Homo sapiens: one gene and its partners. The protein of the gene in region 2 interacts with the protein of the main gene of each other region in a pairwise test. Each region holds a gene or a part of one and is shown on either strand. Other genes may lie near its edges.

The links. Proteins that work in one complex are often made in the same cells at the same time.
Region 1: the proteins of TRIM42 (region 2) and KRTAP2-4 interact in binary tests that used the Homo sapiens proteins (3 or more experiments, as listed by UniProt).
Region 3: the proteins of TRIM42 (region 2) and GLI1 interact in binary tests that used the Homo sapiens proteins (3 or more experiments, as listed by UniProt).
Region 4: the proteins of TRIM42 (region 2) and LONRF1 interact in binary tests that used the Homo sapiens proteins (3 or more experiments, as listed by UniProt).

The regions. Positions count from the first base shown.
Region 1 is NC_000017.11:41,064,616-41,067,181, forward strand, and holds KRTAP2-4 (keratin-associated protein 2-4), read right to left. Parts: upstream 1,265-2,566; 5' UTR 1,231-1,264; coding exon 844-1,230; 3' UTR 501-843; downstream 1-500.
Region 2 is NC_000003.12:140,679,922-140,685,372, reverse strand, and holds part of TRIM42 (tripartite motif-containing protein 42), read right to left. Parts: intron 2,912-5,451; coding exon 2,214-2,911; intron 1-2,213.
Region 3 is NC_000012.12:57,466,285-57,469,784, forward strand, and holds part of GLI1 (zinc finger protein GLI1), read left to right. Parts: coding exon 1-105; intron 106-1,048; coding exon 1,049-1,213; intron 1,214-1,709; coding exon 1,710-1,940; intron 1,941-3,146; coding exon 3,147-3,414; intron 3,415-3,500. UniProt on the Homo sapiens protein: Acts as a transcriptional activator. Binds to the DNA consensus sequence 5'-GACCACCCA-3'. Regulates the transcription of specific genes during normal development.
Region 4 is NC_000008.11:12,749,027-12,752,526, reverse strand, and holds part of LONRF1 (LON peptidase N-terminal domain and RING finger protein 1), read left to right. Parts: intron 1-3,500.

The DNA of each region.
Region 1 (2,566 bases), on a different chromosome or scaffold from region 2:
GCCCCACTCCCAGAGATTTTGATTCATTAGGTTTGGTTTGGGGCCTAAGAATGTGCATTTTAATAGGCAATTGCAAGAGATTCTATTGTGTATGACGCATGGGCCACACTTTGAAAAATGCTACTCTAGGAACTGTGGTAAGAAGATGAGATGCGCTGTGCTGGTCAGTTTACTACCAGTGGTCATTCTGGGCTTGGCATATGCTATTCCCACTTCTACCCCTCTTCATGAACATTGTCTTTCCTTTTGTCTATTCCATTAGACCATAAGCTTCTTGGATACAAGGCATGTAGCTTGTTCATCACTAATCAGGCAGCACCTGTCAACTGGAGGTCCCTTGATAAACAATTCCTGAATGACTGAATAGATGAGATTTCTATGGATAAGGTTTTGCTTAGGTTGAGCTTTGTTTCCCTTGTGCAGGTTCCAAAATCTTGCTTATCTGTGTACGCTAATAAACATGCACTAACGAACAAATCAGGGAGCAGGGCAGTCTGCTATGCCAGGAAAAATTAGTTTATTGACAACAGTGAGCAACACATTGCAAAAGATGATGGTGACAGTTTGAGCAGTAAAAACCATCAGGTTGTAGAATGTGTTTGCAAAGTCCACCCCAGGAATTCTTAAAGGTCGATTTACTATCCATAATGACTAAGGCTGATGTAGACACCTGAAAATGTGGGTGAGGGTGGTAATGGACGTCTGCTTACACCAGGCTGTATCCAGATGGTAAAAATCACTATTGTCACCTTGTGAAAAAAAATCTATTTTTCTTTTAACTTTTTAAAAACACCAGATAGATGTTTAGGCTTCAGTGTATTGCTCTGTGGGGGCATTGGGGTCTCAGCAGGAGGAGGTCCTGCAGGTGGTGCTGCAAGGGGTCGGCTGGCCGCAGGGGGGCCGGCAGCAGGGGGACTGCACAGACACAGGCTGGCAGCAGGTGGTGGCCCAGCAGCAGGGCCTGCACACCACAGCCGTGCACGACGAGGGGCAGCAGGTGATGGGGCGGCAGCAGCCTTCCTGCAGGGAGCAGGGGTCGCAGCACACCGGGCGGCGGCAGGGCTCGCAGATGGGGCGCGTGCAGCGGGGCACGCAGGTCACGGGGCGGCACACGGTGGTCTGGCAGGTCACGGGGCGGCAGCAGCAGGGGTCGCGGCAGCAGCAGGGCTGGCAGCAGCCTCCCCCGTAGCTCAGGGAGGACAAGGTGGAGCCGCAGCAGGAGCCGGTCATGGTGGTGTCTGAGGCTGGTGTGGGTTGGGCTATTGAGAGGAGCTGGATGTTCTCAGGTGTGAATGTCCTCCTCCCCCTCTGGGCCCTTTATATACCCTGGCTGGGAGCTGATGACCCTTCAACATATGATCATTTTCTTGTGCATCTTCTGGCCAATTAAGTGAAGATTTAGCATTGACTAATGGTATTTTGGTCACTCTTCACCTCATACATATTCATGTACATACACCACAAATATTCGCTCATTTTCTTGTATTGTTTATCCTCACTAAATTTAGACATTGGATTCACTTCTGATTAATTTTCCTTTGAAATATTCCTAACCCATAAGAGAGAAAAGAATGTGTTTTCTAAATTAGTGTCTAATCGCTCTGCCCTTTGGCGCTAAAATTAGCATGTTCTTCCTTGTCTTCAAAGGCTCCCATCACCGGCACCCAAGCAGTGACTTGCCTTATTAATGCACATGGGCATGATGGTAGCAGGTTAATTGCATCATCCTAGTGCAGACCAGTAGTCATCTGCTTCACAGATAGCTCCTTCCATGACTCACTTAAAGATAGGCTTGTGGTTTTTCATATGAGCAGGGACCACACGAAATGCAGATCCCTGGCCACTGGTGTGGTCACTCTCCCCTGACTAGGACCTGGGCTTTCCTGCCTTGGTTTTGATGTGTCATCATTCACCTGGAATGCCCTCCTCATCCTTCCAATCCAAACTCAACTTCTACCTTGATTGTAAAACCCTCTTCAAGGATCCATTGCAATTATTATATTTGTAATTTGTTTGGAATTAGTCGTTGCATCTGTAGAGTCCGGGAAGGGATTGCGGAGAATATGTAGGCCTATGCCCTCACTCTACAGCTGAGGTCCTGAGAGTGTACCAAGGTCACACAATGAGGTCACCATATGAGGTCTGAGATCCAGGTCTCCTCAGTCTGCAGTAAGTAGCCTCTACTATGAGTTTTATGCTCATTGGATTCAGTAAACCATGGTCTTTAGACAGGAAAGAAAACATATATTAAAGTAGAAGCCCAGACTTCATGCCACTATGCAATATATCCATGTAACAATGCTGCATTTGAACCTCTTACATTTATACATATTAAACACAGATTTAAAAAAATAAGTAATGAACTTTCCTTTCAGCAGCAAGGTTAGAAGTGGTACTGGAAGAGAATTAGGGAAATGTTTTGCCCAGATGACACATTGTCATCCTGGACCCCCATTGACTCCACTAAGTATGACAATGTGTCTGAGAGCTAGAGAAGGGACCTGGAGAAAGCTAACATGATGCAGGGTTTATTAGTGGAACTTACATACAAGGGTGGTCCAGTGGT
Region 2 (5,451 bases):
CACCATAGAATCACATGAGGAGTTTTTTAAAATTCCATCTTGCTGAGCCTGCACCTCTATGTGGATGGGACAGGGGCATCAGTTTTTAGTAAAGCTTCTAGAATGGATCTTCTCCCTAGGTCCCCCAGTTTCTCAATGTGTATTCCCAGATCACTTGCTTTTGAATAACCTGGAGATCTGTTTAGAATGCCAATTTATGGTACCTCCCAGAAAAGTGAATCAAATGCTCACGAACAAGTTTGAACCCTGGTTAAAAAATTTTTGTGTGTCTGTTTCTTCAGCAAGGATGAAAGGTTAAATTCTTTACTTACAGCTAATATCTAATTTACCAATTATCCCTTTTTCCCTTTCCAACTGCTGGGTTTCCTGGAATTTGGACAGGCATTTTCCCCCCACCTTGAATTGAGCTTTGTTGTCTGCTCAAATTTTAGGTGCCCTGGACTCAGAAAACTATCCTAAGTTTCTCCTGTATTAAGGACGAGGTTCTCTACAGAGGGATGGAAGGCACAGTAGGTTGTAGGCGGCAGTGCCTTCACCATGCTGAGGACCCAAAGAATCCAGCCAAGCCCTGGCCTAGGGAGGCAGTGAGTCCCACCTTCAGAAAACCCTTTTGGAACCAACAGTTCTACCATTTTCTTGGTAATGTGGTTCCTGCAGGGTTCCTTTAATATGAAGTCTTCCCTGGTGGTGGTTCCAAAATTAAATAAATGTCAATTGACAAGCAAGGTTTCCAGGTATGTGGCCATTGAGAAAAATTAAGGTATTCCTGAAGCTACTGAGAGGTCCGGGGTGATGTGGTCATTAGCAAAGCCTGTTTCTGACCCACCTTTACATCCAATGGGACCTTTCTGTGCAGGTCAAGGAAAAGCTGCCTCCCTCCCAAATGTGTAGGCCTATCTGAATGATGGAGACTAACAGATCTGACAAAGAGAAAGGCCTGGGTTGATCTGGTGCACTTTGGTAACTGACTGTAGGCCACTCCTTAAGGAAACAGACCATGGATGGTAGTGGTGGTTCCCCTTCCCTCCCCTTCAATCTCTTCATCTTCAGATTCTGGTCACTGCTTAGCACAAAGTAGATTGTCAAATGAATATTGTGGAATTAATGATAGGCACTGGAGTCAAATAGACTGCATCTGCCACTTATTAGCTCCCTGTCCTAATTTTTTTTTTGAACCACAGTTGTCTTATCCATGGAGGACATTTTAATGCCTGTACTGTAGCATTATTGAGATTAGACAAAATGTGCTCCACAGGCCTGAGTAAAGTGGACCTTTATACAAAGAACTATTCCTGGGGGTAAAGGGCACTAAAGGGATCTTTTGGATTCTCATGTCTGACCAGGTAGAGACATACCCAGAAATTATGGGGCTCTTTGTTGAATCCTGTGAAATATTATTATACTTGGTTTTGTCCCTGAAACCAGAAATTATGGGCTCTTTGCTGAATCCTGTGAAATACTCTTATGCTTGTTTCCATCACTGAAACCATCATTGAAATATTATTTCACTTAAAGCAATATTATATGTAACAATATAAAACAACCAAATCACCATGAACAAGCATGCAGAGGAAAAATAAGCTGTTGACTAGAATGCTATTGGCTAGTTAAGAGTTGTCCCTGTTGTTATATGTTTGCTGCCAGTTTATTTACTTTGGCATCTGCAAGTTTTGGAAAAAATTCATGGAGGGAAATTTAACATTGAGATAATTCTCAGCACTGACTTAATTATCTCCCCCTGCATATTTAGGAAAACCAAAGAGATCCAACAGTGACAGAACATCTTAGAACGTCACAGAACGTCAGTATACTATAGGATCAAAGTCTTCATTTTCCAAAGGAGAAAATGAGACCTGAGGACATGAAGATTATAATCAAGATTATAGAATCTTTATGCACTTGTCATATGACTTTTTGCATGCTTTACATAGAGGAACTCACTTAATCCTCATGGCAACCCAGTGAGGGGGTCACTACTATTCCCGTTTCATAGGTGAGAAAAGCAAGGCACGGGGAAGTTAAGTGGCTGGTGGTGGTTGCCAGGAGCGGACACCAGGATAGTGACTTGCAGGGTAGCACAGTGTTTCCTGGTGCCTTGATTGCTCCACTAGGTGGAATCTGTTAAGGCACTCACTTAACAGATTACCCCACGCCATCTTCCCCATGTGTTCCTGAACTAGAAGTTAGGCTGAAGGAGTGGAAAAGGGGAGGACCTGCTTTGAACTTGGCGATGGCGCTGAAGAGTGAGGCGGCCCTCTCGGAGCAGGCGTCGATGAGGCTAATGGTGTCGTGGCCATTGTGGAAAGAGAACTTGCAGAAGGTGCAGAGCAATTTGTTGTCATTGCGGCAGTACTCGATGATGCGGCTGGATGGGTGGTGGATGCAGATCTTCTCGTCCTGTTCCTCGGCGCTGGTGTCCACAAAGACGTGGTCTTGCATGGCCACATCCGAGTGGAAGGCCTTGAGGCAGTCGTTGCACAGGTTGAGGCGGCAGGTGATGCAGCGCTTGTAAGCGATGCGCTTGTTGCGGCAGACCTGGCAGAGGATGGGCCCGGAGGAGCGGTCAAAGCGCCACTTGAGGTAGCCGTGCTCCTGCATGTAGCGCTTGGTGAGACGCCCGTGCAGGTAGTTCTCGGGCAGCTGCATCTTGTTGCTGTAGGGCATGCAGTGCGAGCGGTCGCACACTGGGCAGATGAGGATGAAGAAGTTCTCGGTGACCTCGGCGTGCTTCTGCAGCTGCCGCAGGCACTTCTCGCACAGGCTGTGGTTGCAGGGCAGCATGAATGAGTGCAGGCGCAGCCGGCTGCACATGGGGCAATTGAGGTGGTTCACCAGGTGACTGTTGGCTGGTATTGACTTTACTTCATCCACCTGGGTATCGCTGCTCCCAGTGCGCAGGGCAGTCTTGGAGCTGAAAGGAGAAGCAAAGGCAGGGTTTCAGGAGGCAGGCTCAAGAGCTTGCTCTGCTTCTCTACCTCTGAAAGAACTCTTGGTTCCTGAGGGGCAGTCTAGTGTGGTGGTGAGGAGCCTGAGCTGGGCGCTAAGGTGCCTGCGTTCTCAATCTGTCTCCACCGTTTTTCAGCGGGGTGACCTCAGGTAAGCCAGTTAACCTCTCGGCCTGTTTCCTTGTTATAAAATTAGTACCTATGTCATAGAGTTTCTTGAGAAGATTAAAATTGAGTTTAATACTTGTACAGTCTAAGAGCAGTCCGTGGTACACAGCCAGTGTGCTGAGACTGCTTGTTGTTATTAAGCAAAGGAAAAGCAGCAGAGACTGGCGTTGTCAGCTAGGCCTTGGTGTTCGGTTGAACATCGGTAATATCAAAACACAATATGAGACAAGGCCACTCTGTGACTTTGATGGATCAAAGCAGAAACAAGACCACTTAATAATGTTTGGACTCCGACAAGAACGTTGTCTAAATCACAAAAATGATCCAACGGCCCCTGACCCTGGTTGATTTTTTTTTTTTAACCAAAAAACCTAGTTGATTTTTTTTTTTTTAACAACTTTTGGGTCACTCTGTTCTTCCTACCTTCTAGATAAGATTTATTAAGATATTCAATAGATTTACTCCCGTGTCCTTACCTAACATGAGCCCAAATCCTGTAATAACTTTTCAAGGTACCTTACACTTTCCCATGCTTTATGTTCTCACTTGTTGCAATGAGTCAATAAATTCAATCTTGTCCAACTACAGGTGTGTTCTCAGTGTTTTTTTTTTCCTGGAGGACATTGACATTATTTATTGTAAATAGATGGAACACAGAGCAAGTCTGTACCTGAGCCAAGCCTAGAACCTGTGTGATCTGCCAACCAGAGCAATAGGTAATGGTAATGGATCTGGGCTTTAGAGGCAGAATGCATGTGATAAAAAATGCACCACTTTACAGTTGTACCTTCTGAGATGTTTTTTTAAACCTCTCTCATGTTCAGTTTTCTCAACTATAAGTCAAAGCTCACAGTACTACTTGCTTTGTGAGGTTTTTATAAAGTCTAAAAGGTAATCCATGTAAGTGCTTAACTGCTGGTACATAGTAAGCATTCAATAAATGTGGCCACTATAATTACACCCCTTTGCTACTAGCCAGCTAATGTCTGCAGTAGAGAGAAATCATAGTATAGGAAAATAGTGGCCAAGTCTGTGAAAAGTATGTGCTTCCACTGTTTCATTTATGTGTGTTAAGGCTCTCCATTTGTCTAATGCCTGAGGCTGATTTCATATATTTAATCGTAAGAGCTATGGCGTAAAAGCATACTTGTAAAATTCAAGTACCTGTTCTAAGAACTTAAAATCAGCAAATGCAGTGTATAAAAATAAATGAAATAGCTGTGGGAATGGAGGTGTAAAAGGCACACAATTTGCTGCTATTGCTATCTCCTCTGTTTGCATAATAATATTTGGATACTAATCTCGACATTGCGGCTGTGTTCCTTTTTGCTTTTGTCTTCTTGCATTCCTTATGTGTCCCTGTCTTCCCTGCTCCCTTGGCCAGGAGCCTATGTCTGAGTCCTGACAGTCACAGGTGCTTCCCAAGTATATTGGAATGGAGTGGCCCTGTGGTGACAGAGAATGCTCCCTGTGTATATTAAGGCACCTGGAAAATTTGTCCCTTAGGGATCTGGGAGCTCTAGGCATGCTGGCCTCGATGTTCTCACCTCTATTTCCTCTCTGCTTTCCCAGATTCCTGCATGGGTCCTGAAGGGATCACCTGGTGGTACAGGTTAATTGTCCATGTAGTGCCTGGATGGACTTTAGTTTGCTTAAAAAAGTAAGGCCTGGAGAATCAAGGTATAATATAAAGAGAGGCTGTTATGAGGCCTTCACAGGAGGTATCTCTACTAGGAAGCTCATGAACTAGCATTTTCACAAAAAAGAAAGAAGAAGTGGGGGAGGGAGGTGTTGGAGGATGAGAAAGAGGTCTCAGGGCTAAGAGACAGGTATTAATGGCCTAGGGAGCTGTGTTAGGGGTGAAAAAGGAAGTGACAAAAAGATTAAGATGGAGAGGGATGAATGAGACCAGAGTGAGGCAGGACAAGTAAGGTGCTGAGCAGAAGGTGGTGATGAGAAGCAGGGGAGGCAGAGGGTCAGAAGCCAGGAGAGAGGCCAGATTGAAGAAAAGCACCCAGAGCCGACCTCCTAACACTTGTGGTAGCATCCCTGCCCATCCTCCAAAAGCCTCAGGCTTGGACGGGGCATTCAGTGGCCATGGTTCCATTTCAAAACAGTCATCAAGCCCAGCGCTTTTATCTTCTTGCTGAGATATCCTGTCTCTGCTCCTCTGCACAGCCCCCTCTGTCTCCCAAAATCAGGCCTGTTCTTGCACCTGGATTCTTACTGTACCACCTATCAAATCTCCTGGCTTCCCTCCTAGCCTCCTGCAGGCCATTCTGCACATTAGAATCACCTGAAGCGGGGTGGGGGGGTTGATTCTAATTAATTCAGATGC
Region 3 (3,500 bases), on a different chromosome or scaffold from region 2:
TGCCACTGGGGGGGCTGCTCCAGGGAGCTGAGGCCCTTCAAAGCCCAGTACATGCTGGTGGTTCACATGCGCAGACACACTGGCGAGAAGCCACACAAGTGCACGGTGAGGCACCAGTGTCCCAAGTCCAGGGTCTCTTCCTAAATCAGGGCTCTCCTTCAAGGTAGGGCCCAAGGCAGACTTTTGCTTTTATAAGTCCTTTCTTCCATAAACAAATATTAAAAATAATGTTTGTGTGACTGTGTTGGCATAAAGATGAATATGATGATATATATTAAAACACTCTTGGACCTAAAAGCTCATTTTTTTCCCCTTGATTTTAAAAGACATTAAAACAGGCCAGGCACGGTGGCTCACACCTGTAATCCCAGCACTTTGGGAGGCTGAGCCAGGCAGATCACAAGGTCAGGAGTTCGAGACCAGCTTGGCCAATATTGGTGAAACCCTGTCTCTACTAAAAAATATAAAAATTAGCTGGGCGTGGTGATGGGCGCCTGTAGTCCCTGCTACTTGGGAGGATGAGGCAGAAGAATCACTTGAACCAAGGAGGTGGAGGTTGCAGTGAGCTGAGATGGCGCCACTGCACTCCAGCCTGGGCGACAGAGCAAAACTCCGCCTCAAAAAAAAAATTTTTTTTAAAAAAGACATTAAAACATGTTCGTGGGCCTCTTAAAGTATTGTTGGCCTTCAGTACTGTGCCTACTACTCTGCCTAATGGATAAACCCTGCATCAAGGACAACAGCCCGTTCCCCCAAGATGACCCCATCTTGGGACAGCCTAAGATCCCCATGCAGAGAAATCTGCCCTGGCTTGGTCAGAAGATGCTCTAGCATCTTTATATTCCCAAAGGGAGAGTGCCTCCAACTGCTTCCCTTCTCCAAGTTCTTGCCTGCCCTTGTCCCCTAGTTTTGGGAATTCTCTCGAAGCCCCAGTGCCTTTCATCTTGAGTTATATTCTCTGATGTGTGTCCTGTTGGAGATTGAGGGTTCCTTCCATCTCCATGTCCTCTGTCTGAGAACTATCCTTTGACCCCTGCATGTCCCCCAGTTTGAAGGGTGCCGGAAGTCATACTCACGCCTCGAAAACCTGAAGACGCACCTGCGGTCACACACGGGTGAGAAGCCATACATGTGTGAGCACGAGGGCTGCAGTAAAGCCTTCAGCAATGCCAGTGACCGAGCCAAGCACCAGAATCGGACCCATTCCAATGAGGTGAATGCCCTAACTAAGCGACCCTCCCCTCTTGAGAAGCCACCTACCAGGGAGATTCCCCCATAAGAAATCCCTTAGCCCAGCACCCACTCCACAGAGGTGAGTCCCCCTCCCCACATAATTCGCCCAGAAAAGGCTTTTCTGAAACCCAGAATTTCCACTTAACCACTCCTCCTCCTACCTCTAACCTCTAACCAGCCAAAAGGCTAACCTAAAAGATTCCATCTAGAGGAGACCCCTGATCCCTCCAACCCCTGGATTTATGGGACCTCACAGCCCTGGGTTCACCCCCTCATCTTTCCCAGGCTGTCAGTTTTCCTAACCCTCCACTTAATCTCTGCATCTTTGACTCCCACCGGAGGCCTCCATCCTCCTTACTTCCTTTGGTGCTGTGTGCTCCTCCCCTGCCCCCTGTGTTGTCACCACTTTTTCCCATTTCTTCTGCATTCTTCCGCTTTGATCCGTTTGCCTTCTGTCTCCACTCTCCACTCAACAGAAGCCGTATGTATGTAAGCTCCCTGGCTGCACCAAACGCTATACAGATCCTAGCTCGCTGCGAAAACATGTCAAGACAGTGCATGGTCCTGACGCCCATGTGACCAAACGGCACCGTGGGGATGGCCCCCTGCCTCGGGCACCATCCATTTCTACAGTGGAGCCCAAGAGGGAGCGGGAAGGAGGTCCCATCAGGGAGGAAAGCAGACTGACTGTGCCAGAGGGTGCCATGGTGAGAGAGCCCAGGCAACCCTCACCTCCATACCCCAGCCCACCCTGTGGACATCTTTCTAGTTACTTCCCAACCCATCCATTCCCTCCTATAGAAGTCACTCTTCTGTGACCAGTCTGCCTGTCTCTTGTCTTAGTGTTGCTCTTTGGGCTTCCCCAAATCTAGAGGTTTTAGAATCTTTCTGTCTCACTCTCTCACTCTCTTTCTCTCTCTCCTTCCTTCCTTCTTTCCTTCTTTCCTTTCTTCCTTTCTTTCTTTCTCTCTCTCTCTCTTTCTCTCTTTCTTTCTGACAGAGTCTTGCTCTGTCGCCCAGGCTGGAGTGTAGTGGCATAATCATAGCTCACTGCAGCCTCAAACTTCTGGGCTCAAGTGATCACTACAGGCACACCCCATCATGCCTGGCTAATTTTTCTTCTTTTTAGAGATCGAGTCTTGCTATGTTGACCAGGCTGGTCTCAAACTCCTGGCCTTGAGCGATCCTCCCACCTCAGCTTCCCACAGTGCTGGGATGAGCCAATGCATCCAACCCAAACTCTTTCTTTTTTTTTCAGACGGAGTCTCGCTCTGTTGCCCAGGCTGGAGTGCAGTGGCATGATCTCGGCTCACTGCAACCTCCGCCTCCCAGGTTCACGCCATTCTGCCTCAGCCTCCTGAGTAGCTGGGACTACAGGCGCCTGCCACCACGCCGGGCTAATTTTTTTGTATTTTTAGTAGACATGGGGTTTCACTGTGTTAACCAGGGTGGTCTTGATCTCCTGACCTCGTGATCTGCCCACCTCGGCCTCCCAAAGTGCTGGGATTACAGGCGTGAGCCACTGCACCCGGCAACTCTTTCTTAAATAGCACTTAGTATATGTTCCAAGCCTTTTACATGTATAATTTCATGTACTCCTCACAGCAACTTCATGATAAAGGGACTCACTGTTCCCATTTTCAGTTGAAGAAACTCAGGCATAGAGAAATAGCCCAAGGTCATAGAACTAAGAGCAAGAATTTGAGTCCAGCCAGTCCGTGCTCCAGCCTAGGTTCTTCTCATCAAACGTCTCACATTCAGTTTGCTCCCCCATCTCTTACCTGCTTAGCCCTTTCTACACTTACAAGCTTCCTTGGAACCCCAGCAGTCACTGGGACACAGGCTTCAGCCACTCATCAAGTTGAAGGAGCTGTGGGGAAGGGTGTTGCCCTCAGACCTCATCTTCTCCACAGAAGCCACAGCCAAGCCCTGGGGCCCAGTCATCCTGCAGCAGTGACCACTCCCCGGCAGGGAGTGCAGCCAATACAGACAGTGGTGTGGAAATGACTGGCAATGCAGGGGGCAGCACTGAAGACCTCTCCAGCTTGGACGAGGGACCTTGCATTGCTGGCACTGGTCTGTCCACTCTTCGCCGCCTTGAGAACCTCAGGCTGGACCAGCTACATCAACTCCGGCCAATAGGGACCCGGGGTCTCAAACTGCCCAGCTTGTCCCACACCGGTGAGACCTGGGTGTGGGAGGTGTGGCTGGGGTGAGATCTGGACCTGCCCTGAGGTTGAGAGGAGGAAGTCACCCTTGAGGGCTGT
Region 4 (3,500 bases), on a different chromosome or scaffold from region 2:
TCACTGCATTAGCTTATTTTTTCCTCATTTTTAGTTCTTTCAAGAATCATTAATTCCATGCTTGAAAATGTCTGAATGGCACTAATGAGGATAAGTTTTTTAATCTTTTGAATTCTTAATGTGAACTAACAGGAAAAAAATCTCAGAGCTAACAAATTAGAGTTGGTAAAGGGCCGATTTATAAGTGTCTCACAATTTATGGGTGTAAATCAAAATGTTAACTAGTACAGTCATAAGCTGTTTGTACAATCCTTAGGCTTTAACTTCTTTGGAATTGGCAAGCTAGGCATTTGACATGTATTTATATAACTGTACGGTTGTAGTTATTAATGATCTTGTCATTATTGTTGATAATGAAAAAAGATCTTCACTATAATTTCTTCGTATAATTCTTATAATGAAACAAGTAAATACTATTAACTAGAAAAAATCTAGTCTGCAGTTAGCCCACACACATCCAAACTTATCTCTGCCAGCAGCAAAAGAAAGCTTGAAAACCTTTGCCAAAATCAGAAGTTTCCCATTTAGATTACATAAGTTTCTGTTGAATTGAAATATATTTAGATAACATTTAAACCATTGATCTTTTGGTATTAACTCTCAGATGTTTCATAACTTTCTGTCTTTTTAGTATTCAGGGATATTATGTAAAGTTTTTCCTGCACTGAATCTCTGTGCTTGAGCCTACTGAAATGATCCCCCTAAGCCATGCTGCCTGCCTTTTGTGTTTAATGTTTTTTTACACTGACTTATCTCCTTCGTGTGTTCACCTCTCCCCCAGAGGAAGACAACAGAACAGTATAATTTACAGTTTGTACAGGTTAAAAAAAAAAAAAAAGGTTGTAAGGTGGGGGGGTGATATTTTGTTTTAAAATATTTGGGTAAGGAAAATTTTGTCTTTAATATTAATTCTGTAATGCTTGACCAGGCATGGTGGCTCAAACCTGTAATCCCAGCACTTTGGGAGACCGAGGCGGGCGGATCGCATGAGGCCAGGAGTTCGAGACCAGCCTGGCCAACATGGTGAAACCCCGTATCTACTAGAGATACAAAAAATTACCCAGGCGTGGTGGTGCATGCCTGTAGTTCCCGCTACTCCAGAGGCTGAGGCAGAATTGCTTGAACCCGGAAAGTGGAGGTTGCAGTTAGCTGAGACCACACCACTGCACTCCATCCAGCCTGGGCAACAGAGCAAGACTCAGTCTCAAAAAAAAAAAAAAAAAAAAAAAACATAAAAATAAAAATATAATCCTTGACTGTTACCCAGTATTTTTACATTATTTATATTAATATCATTTGATCTTCACAGAGAATTCTATGGAGTACTGTAATATTATCCTCAGAGGGAAACTGAGGCATCTATGGATAGACATGCAGTGTGGCTTAGTGATTAAAGCTCTGCATGCTGGAAGCTGACACCTGGGTTCCAATCCTGACGCAGCCCTCGCCTCTCTCCGACCTTGTGCACGTTGCCTAACCTATCTGTGTTTTGGTTTCCTTATCTGAAAAATGAGAATAGTCTCTACCTCATAGGGTGTTGTGAGAATCAAATGAGTCAAAACATGCTAAGTGCTTTAAATAGTGCCTGACACAGAGTAAATGCCCAGTAAATATTAATTCAATATTTTTAAAATGTAGAAGTGTGTTACGGCTAGAAGGGGATTTTGCTGAAAGTGGAATCTAAACCTTGCAATTTTACATCCTGTTCTGTTCTATCACTTGGTAGAGAGTAACAATTACATCCCGATTTTAGTTTACACATGTTAACTAGCAGTTTAGCATTCATCAATAAACTATAGATACTTAAAAGCTTTAGCTATCAGAAGATCAGTCAAATTATAGGTAAATACTGAATACATTTAAAGAAAATGTAGAGGGTTTTTATTATCTTTAGTAACTCAACTAGGTTAAAATGAAGAAATTTGAATTTAAACAATACAGTAGTTTCCCCTTATTTGTGGTTTCAGTTACCCACATGGTACAGTATGATAAAATATTTTGAGAGACCACTTTCATGTACGTTTTATCACAGCATATTGTTATATTGTTCTATTTTATCATCAGTTATTGTTGCTAATGTCTTACTACACCTAATTTATAAATTAAAGTTTATCACAGGTATGATAGTATATATAGGGCTTGGTACTATCTGAAGTTGCAGGCATCCGTGGGAGTCTTGGAACGTATCCCCCTTGGGTAAAGGGAGGCTCTTGCTAACTTATTTATGTCCTTACTTATTGTGCAGAGGACTTGAAACAGTAAACACTGATGTCTGTATGGTGATTATAGTTCACAATTATTTTCATTTCTATTATCGTAATTGATCCATACACAAACTCATGTGAGATAGGAGGGCAAGTATTAATATCCCTAATTCACAGATGTAAGAAAAGTTGCAAGAATTTTGGGTGACTTTCTTAAGGGAAGTAAGTGACCAAGTTAAAACTGAAAGCAGAACCCAAATATGTGCATATTGATTCAAAACACAAAGTTGATTTAAAAATTAGCACGCAAAACATAAATCTAAAATATTCTTACTATTCAGCAAATTTTTATTGAGTAGCTACTATATACCAGGCATTGTTTTAGGTGCTAGAAATATAAAAAAGGAGTAAAATAAAGTCCCTGTCCTTGTAGAGTTTGTATTTTTTGTTTCTTTTGTAATTGCAGCAAATTGAAAATCCCTAGAAAATGGGGTTTACTGCTTAATTGGCTTCTACTTAACCGAGACTATATCTCTAATTATTTTCTTTGATTCATAAGGTACTTTAAGGATTTTTTTTCTTAGTGCCTCAGGGTTACTAAAAAGATCAACTGTAATGGCTTTTGATATAAATGATAAAAAAACTGATTCAAGTGTCCCATTTCAAATGAATAATTTGTTTTTTAACTGTTTTTCATTCATCAAATGCAGAATTTACCAAAACTGAATTATCTTAGATTTCTAGTTATTTATATATTAACTTTTTGTTTATTCAGAATCATTTTTCTGTTTGTTGGAATATTTCTAAGAGCCTTGGAAAATCTCGAGTAAAATTTTAAATGAATTTGTATAGTGTTCTGCCTCTTTCCAAAGGTATTTCTCAAAATTGGAATTGTTTTATTATTGAAGTTGAATGACTTCAGGGAACTCTAAAATGCAAGATGGAAGCTTCTGTTTGGTTTTTTCTTTCCCTTTGGTAAGGTCTTTTGCTTCCCATCCCCTTGACCCACCTTTGTGCTGTCTGTTGTCCAGTCTGCTCTCCTGATCCCTAAAGATGTTTCTTATCTAGGCTACCATTTATGTGGGTAAAAGACAAGGTAGAAAATACTCTTCTGTATCTTGTATCAAGGGTTAATCTAATATCTTCATCACTTTGTTTTGAGATATTTTGGAATGTTATCAACAATTATTATAGATGGAGCATGTATGTCTTAGGTTTGGTGTTAACTGTTTAACATGCATTATCTTATTCAATCCTCACAGCAGTTATAAAATGTAGGTGTTTTAGAGGTAAGCA